Linked DNA regions of Homo sapiens. The protein of the gene in region 2 purifies or fractionates together with the protein of the main gene of each other region. This does not show direct contact. Each region holds a gene or a part of one and is shown on either strand. Other genes may lie near its edges.

Region 1 (3,828 bases), on a different chromosome or scaffold from region 2:
TACCATGATCTACATACCATATGTTTTACTTTTTTTTTATTTTATTTTTTTTATCCCCCAATTAGAATGAAAGCTACTTGAGGACAGGCGATTTTATTCACTGTTTTGTTCAGTTGCTAGATCCCCAATAACTACAGTGCCTGTGGTGAGCACTCATCAAACGTGTTGAATGAATGAATAGTGTGTATGTAAGTAATGACATTAACCAAGTCTAGGAATATGGATACAGGTTGAGTATCCCTTATCCAAAATGCTTGCGACCAGGAGTGTTTTTGATTTTGGAATATTTGCATTATTACTGGTTGAGCATCCCAAATTTCAAAATCCGAGCACCAGCTTAAAAAATTTTGATTTTGGAGCATTTCAGGTTTCAGATATTAAGACTTGGGATGCTCAACCTGTAGTATATTTAGAGCCAATAAGAAAAATGGTTTGTCATTTCAGATAAAGTCATGGTTTAAGCCTTGGGTAAACTCTGATAAAAGTAAAATTACGTTCTTGTAAACTCTGAACACAGGCCGTGTACTCCATTAACAAATCCTTTTTGTTATAGGTATAGGTATACCTATATAGGTATAGGTATATAGGCATATAGGTATACCTATATAGGTATAGGTATATAGGCATATAGGTATACCTATATAGGTATAGGTATATAGGTATATAGGTATATAGGTATATCAATAGGTATATTGATATAGGTAAAAGGTATATCAAAATACCTTTTAATAAGTTAGCCAAGGCTCAAAGTTGGAGAAAATCTCAGACTGGGCTGAGAAGGCGAATGTAGGATTATCTTATTTGCTGCTGCTGGCCTCTTTCAGTTAGCTAAGGCCTAACTGTGCAGCATACTAAACACCTGAGGCTCACATGGCAGCTCAGGCTTTCGTTCTTCCAAGTTGTCAGGCTTCAAGAGTGTGAACAGCTGTTCCCAGAAACAGGGTTTCCTCCCTCTTGGGCGTGAGTGCCAGGGTGGTGGTGTCTTTATTGCCTGGAGGTGGAGGAAGAGCTCTGCAAATGCACAGTGGGAGAGTTAATCCTGAAACCCCCTCCGTGCTTCCTGTGTTATTTCAGTTTTAAGTGTTAAACTGTTTTTTTGTTTATATTAAATATATTTAATATTATAAATACATTAAATAAAATACATTTTTATTTAATGTAAAACCTGTGGGCCTCTGAAGTAGGTAATATTGGTAATGTGTATTTTTGGCTGGACATTAGGTAATAACATTTTACCAAAAATTATGTCTGTAGGTGTATGGTAAATACACCTGATAGCAATAACTTAAGCGTGCCCTGAGAATGACCCTGTATTGCAGACACACCTGGATATGTGTTTCAAGCTAGGGAATCAAAATGGCCCACCTGGAGATTCATTCCTTGTCTGTGAGGAACATCTGAGCCCCCAGCCCATCCAGTGAAACATAGGCCATGCAGTGGATCAAGGCCCCGAGTTTTGGGTTGAATGAAGGTTGCCAGGTGGAGGTTGTTAGGGAAATGTTAAGTGAAAATGCTGTATAAACCACATTTTTGCTATATAAACCACTTTTTGCATGCAGTTATGGTTCTCCTGCCCAGCGCATTGCCACTGAGTATACAGTTCTCCTGTCCAGCCCACTGTCACTGGACTCTCCTATGTGTGTTGCCCCCATTAAAACCCTGTGTCTCATTTCCTGGCTCCGGGTCTCTTCTTAGGCCTCTCAAACATGGGTATCTTCCCCACTGGAGGCAATAAGGGTTCGGCACAACAGTATGTACACACACATAAGTATGCAAATGTATCACTGAAGTACAATCTGTTCAGTAATAGCAGTTTTAACAGCATTATACCTACCTCAGCAAGCAAGCATTTAATAGAAGTTTTTCTTGTGAGTGAATGAATATGCTGTAAGTTGATATTCAGGTGATTTTAGTATTACATAGTTCTCTCGTAGGACTTTGGAGTATAGGTTATTCTGTATTACTTAAAGCCTGATGCAAATGTTTTTAACAATCAACCAAGTGGATTTTAAGGCTGTCAATTTTATAAAAATTAAATCAAGAAATTACAACTAGTATACTCTCTTGAATATTTGGCCATCTCAGTTTCACGAAGAAGTATATTAAGGGATTTTCATTTTCTGTAACACTGTTACAGATGAGTGATAAATAACACAAAATACTGTAACAGACCCGTAACTGTGATTTTTGATGTTGTATATTTGCTTAGCTGGAATTATCAGTTATCTACTATATGGGAAAGTCTGTTTTCCCAAGGGACATAGAATTTTAAGCAACTTTTCGGTGAATCTGACAGGATAAATTGTTTGTAAAATATACTCTTACATAACTATAGACAGATCTGTATGAAGGTTTTGTATATGAACCAATTGAATATGCCATGGATAATTTTGTTTTTAGAAAGACTGATCCAGGCCGGGCGTGGTGGCTCACGCCTGTAATCCCAGCACTTTGGGAGGCCAAGGCGGGTGGATCACCTGAGGTCGGGAGTTCTAGACCAGCCTGACCAACACGGAGAAACCTCATCTCTACTAGAAATACAAAATTAGCCGGGCATGGCAGCGCATGCCTGTAATCCCAGCTACTCGGGAGGCTGAAGCAGAACTGCTTGAACCTGGGAGGCAGAGGTTGTGGTGAGCCGAGATCACGCCATTGCACTCCAGCCTGGGCAACAAGAGCGAAACTCTGTCTCAGAAAAAAAAAAAAAAAAAAAAAAGAAAGACTGATCTTTCTCACTAGGCCACTCACACTTAAAAAAAAAAACAGACAGACAGACTGATCCTTCTCACTAGACCACTCAGACTTAAAAAAAAAAAAAAAAAAGACTTACCTTAATCTATGCTTTCAGCCAGACAGTACACAGGCAACAGCATCAGTATATTGAGGCCATTGCAAGTTCTTCCTGAACATTTCCCGCGATTTCATCTGTGGACAGATGCTTATTGTGTTTTGGGAAATCTCCCAAATACATGTCAATTAGCTGTCGATGGAATAGTCTTACAAGATCTGACCCCTAGTTCTACACATATAGTCATTTGGTTAATCAGTTTTACTAGAGTTGATTAGTTTATTTTGCTTTGGGGTAGTGAATGATGATGGAGGAAAAATAAAATCCTAAAAAACAATGACAATATTTGATAAAACTTTTTATTTTCAGTGGCTTTGAAGCGTATGTTGAATTTCAATGTGCCTCATATTAAAAACAGCACAGGAGAACCAGTATGGAAGGTAAGAGTTTATCTTAATGGGAACTGATTTCTGTTTTTCTCAGCCCTTATTGGTGGTAATTGGAGGGAATTTATTGTAATATGGAAGAAGTAACACATATTAGTTATCATGAATGTTTTATCCTTATTTAACATGATCTCTTAATATGAATTGTTTTGACAGACATTCTATGGAGTGAGACAAGTGATAAAATAGTAATTTTCATCTAGGGAGTCCAGTTGATCTCTTTGGTAGGATGTCACTGATAGGTCTTTTTCCTGGTTGATATTTTGTTCCTTAGCTTTTCAAGTCCAGACTTTGGATTTTATAAGCTTGCTCGGAGTTAGTCACATTCAGAGGGCCTGGATTATTTTAACAAACTCATGAGAAAATGATCTGTAAACTGTAATACCACTTTAATAATTTATGAGATATAAAACTTAATTGAACCAGAAAGCAATCTACAATCTTTTCCTTTGAGAAATACTGGAGAGCCTTTAAAAATTCCAATTCTTTAGGCTTCTTCATTTTAAACTTCATGCAGACTCTCTTTCTTCAGATGTTATAATACAGTTGATTGGGTTTAAACTTACTGGTTAACAGTCTCTTTATATTTCTCTC
Region 2 (3,828 bases):
TCCTCAGAGAAAGGGCTGATTCTAGCACTGAAACAGGAAATAGAGAAGATGATCCTGGAGTATCTTATACTATCAGAAAGCAATATAGTCCTTAAAAAAAAGAAAAGAAAAAAGCCAAAATGATGGGGGTATACCAAAAGGACACAGAAGCCAAATTAAAAAAAAGGCTCCCAATGGTCAACGCTAAAACAATTTGAGCAACATGAAAATAAAGTAGTATTGGAATATAACACAAAGGATAAAATAGGTATCTATGAGTCCATACTGATGTAAATGACTGAATAAGTAAATAAATGAATAGATAAATCTCTCTTACATAAAAGAATTACAAATAATTCACGTAATTACTTGGCTTCAAGGAGGTAGAGTGTAACTCTCCACTCCTTAAGTATAGGCTATGCATATATGATTTTCTTCCAAATAGTATGGAAAAGGGAGGGAAACAGTAACTTTACAGTGGAGAAACCTGGCAAACACTACCTCAGCCACGTGATAAAGGTTAACATCAGTAGTGATAAGTCATGTTGACAGTATGTATTCTTGGTATGTGGTGAAAATGATGCTTTACTTCTGTGGTCCTCCTCCCCAAAACCCAGAACTCCAATCTAATCATGAGAAAAACATTGAGCAAATCCCAGTTGAGGGAACCTTCTAGAAAATATCTGACCAGTACTCTTCTAAACTGTAAAGTCATCAGAAACAAGGACAGTTTGAGAAACTGTCATAGCCATGAGGGGCCTAAAAATCCATGAGTACTAAATGTTTTACAGTGTCCCAGATTGGATCCTGGAATAGTTAAAGGACATTAGGTAAAAAGAACAAACAGAACAAAACGAAATCTGAATAAAGTATGACCTTTAGTTAATAATAATGTATCAATATGGGCTCACTAGCTGTAACAAATGTACCATATTAACATGATGTTAATCACAGAGAAAACTGGGCATGGGGTATATGGGATTCTCCGTACTATCTTTGTGATTTTTCTGTAAATTTCAGACTGTTCTAAAATAAAAAGTTTATTTAAAAAAAAAAAACAAAAACAAAAGACTGAAGCCATTACTTAGGTTGACTAAATTGACCAATATATAGACAACATACAGATATATAGATCTATAGATGCATACACACACACAATTGTTTATATGAATGTATATTATTCAAAGATGAATACAACCCCATAAAAGCTTAATTTTTTTTTTTTTTTTTGAGACAGAGTCTCACTGTGTCACTAGGCTGGAGTGCAGTGGCGCAATCTTGGCTCACTGCAACCTCTGACTCCCTGGTTCAAGTAATTCTCCTGCCTCAGCCTCCTGAGTAGCTAGGATTAGAGGCACGTGCCACTACACCCAGCTAATTTTTGTATTTCTAGTAGAGACGGGGTTTCTCCATGTTGGCCAGGATGGTCTCGATTTCCTGAGCTCGTGATCTGCCCGCCTTGGCCTCCCAAAGTGCTGAGATTACAGTGTGAGCCACCGCGCCCGGCCCTAAATGCTTAAATTTTTTATGAGACATAACTGGGCCATCAGTAACTGCTAAAGACTATCTTCCCTGTATGCTCAATTGAAAAAGCTGGACCTTGCCCAGCAGCTCATGAAGCAGATTTTGAGGTAGCCTGAATCCTAACAAGGAACAAACTATTGTAGCAGTGAGTTCCTGAATCAGGACTGGAACCATCCCTTCAACTGTAACCCTCTAGAGCAACAGAAATATAATGCAAGTCACACATGCAATTTTAAATTTTCTTGTAGCAGTATTTTTTAAAGTTTTCAAAAATAAAAAACTTTTAAGAGAAACAAGTGAAATTAGTTTTAATAATGTTTTTAATTTCAATAATACGTAATTGCATATATCTAAAATATTATCATTTCACAATGTAGCAACAGCCACATTTCAGGTGCTCAATAGCTACACGTAGATATTACAGCTCTAAAGCCAAATATATTTTAAGCAAACCACAATATTCATGAACAAAAGCCAACTTTTCTGAATTATCTCACTGCAACCACCTTGCAAAGGCAAGAGAGAATCACAGAAGTATGTTTATGCCTTCATCTACACGTGGCTAAGTCTAGATGGTCTAGACAATCCTCCAGGGCTTGGCATAACCAATCCACTAGACTCAGGCATTTCCTTCCAGAAAGGACACCTGCCTTGTCCGACACCACTTTCACTTCTCTCCTCCGACTGCCCCCCTTGGGATCCTGAGTTCAAAGCCCAGTTCCAAATTCATATCCAAAAGGCCCTAATCACTTACCTCCTTTCAAATGTGTTCATCAAGAGAAATTTACCTAATTCTAGTCTAGGAACAGAAAGGAAGCAAGAATTGAAGTGTAAGATTTAAGAGTTCAATTAACATGACAAAGTCTGAAGAGCGGGGTCCTAGCTAATCTTACCAACTGTTGTCTTCAGCAGCAGCAGTAATATCATTAATGGCTAGTATATCACGTGTTTTCTCTGTGTAAGAAGGGTGCTAGTGTGTTACATGTTTTATTTCACTGATTTTTACATTATAAGGTTGAAATTATTACTCTCTCACCCCCATTCTACCGATGGAGGAGACAGGCCTAGAAAGGCCAAGCAATTGTCCATGACTGCACATCTAGTAAGTAGCAGAACTAGGGTTCTAAACAGATCTGATGTCATGTCTGAATCTGAATCATTTTGCTGTAATACTTTCTTGGTACAATTCTGAGGACAGCCATAAAGTGACAGGATTCACAACAGATCATTCCCTCTCTGTGAATGGTAAAGTAAGCAACTAATTGCAAAAAGACTACTTTAAAATTCTTCAGGAAGCCTATTTCGTGTAACAGAATCTTTGCACCAGAGGAAAACATTCCCCACTTAAGAATTCACTCCCATCACTAGAGGAAAAGGAACTTCACAATAAAGTACTAACTGTATAGTTTCTGCTCATCCCTTTTCCTTACTTTCCCACAGAACCATAATAATTAAAAAAACAATGTTCAAATATAGTGCCATAGGGTATTAAGAAAGAACTCACCCATCTCAGTTCAATTACTAAAATTAGTTAAGATTCAAACACTTTAAGAGCAAAATCTCTTTATTGTTTAAAAAATATCACAGAGTAATCAGATTTCTTTCTTAAAATAAAATTTTTAAATGTTCACTCTTCTGTTCTCTTTGGAAGCAATACTTTAATACATTGTAACATGCACAGCAGAGTAAAGTTCATTTCAATAGATCTACCCACTCTACTTGAATTTAAGTAAGTTACTATGTTGGGGGAATTAACTGCTTTGGCTGGAAAGTTTGCTCCAATTTTTATCCTTCTTAACTCAAGTAAATTATAGTTCACCTCCTCTGGGTCACTTTTAGCTCAACACTGCACTCGCCAATGATGGCCAGAGAGAGAGATTATAATTACTTGTCATCAAACTATTTTTGCCATGGTTATATATATTAATGTCTGTTCATCTACAGACATACATCTGAAATTCATAACTACATGGATATATTTTTCATCTTTTTCTATACATCAATTGGAAATAGATTTAAAAAGGGGCAAGCACAAGTCATTATTAAGAGGGCAACTACTGCGTTTTTAAGAATTATGATCAGGCCAGGTGCGGTGGCTCACGCCTGTAATCCCAGCACTTTGGGAGGCCCAAGTGGGTGGATTGCGTGAGCCCAGGAGTTTGAGACAAGCCTGGGCAACATGGCAAAACCCCATCTCTACAAAAAAAAAAAATCAGCCGGGCACAGTGGCTTGAGTAGTCCCAGCTACTCGGGAGGCTGAGGTGGGAGTAGACTTGAGCCGTGAGGGAGAGGTTGCAATGAGCTGAGATTGCGCCATTACACTCC

What was found.
Region 1: the proteins of VTI1A (region 2) and SCFD1 purify together in Homo sapiens (affinity purification with mass spectrometry; one large-scale study listed by BioGRID and IntAct). This does not show direct contact.

What each region holds. Positions count from the first base shown.
Region 1 is NC_000014.9:30,625,052-30,628,879, forward strand, and holds part of SCFD1 (sec1 family domain-containing protein 1), read left to right. Parts: intron 1-3,157; coding exon 3,158-3,228; intron 3,229-3,828. UniProt on the Homo sapiens protein: Plays a role in SNARE-pin assembly and Golgi-to-ER retrograde transport via its interaction with COG4. Involved in vesicular transport between the endoplasmic reticulum and the Golgi.
Region 2 is NC_000010.11:112,449,948-112,453,775, reverse strand, and holds part of VTI1A (vesicle transport through interaction with t-SNAREs homolog 1A), read right to left. Parts: exon of another isoform or gene 3,050-3,828; intron 1-3,049. UniProt on the Homo sapiens protein: V-SNARE that mediates vesicle transport pathways through interactions with t-SNAREs on the target membrane. These interactions are proposed to mediate aspects of the specificity of vesicle trafficking and to promote fusion of the lipid bilayers.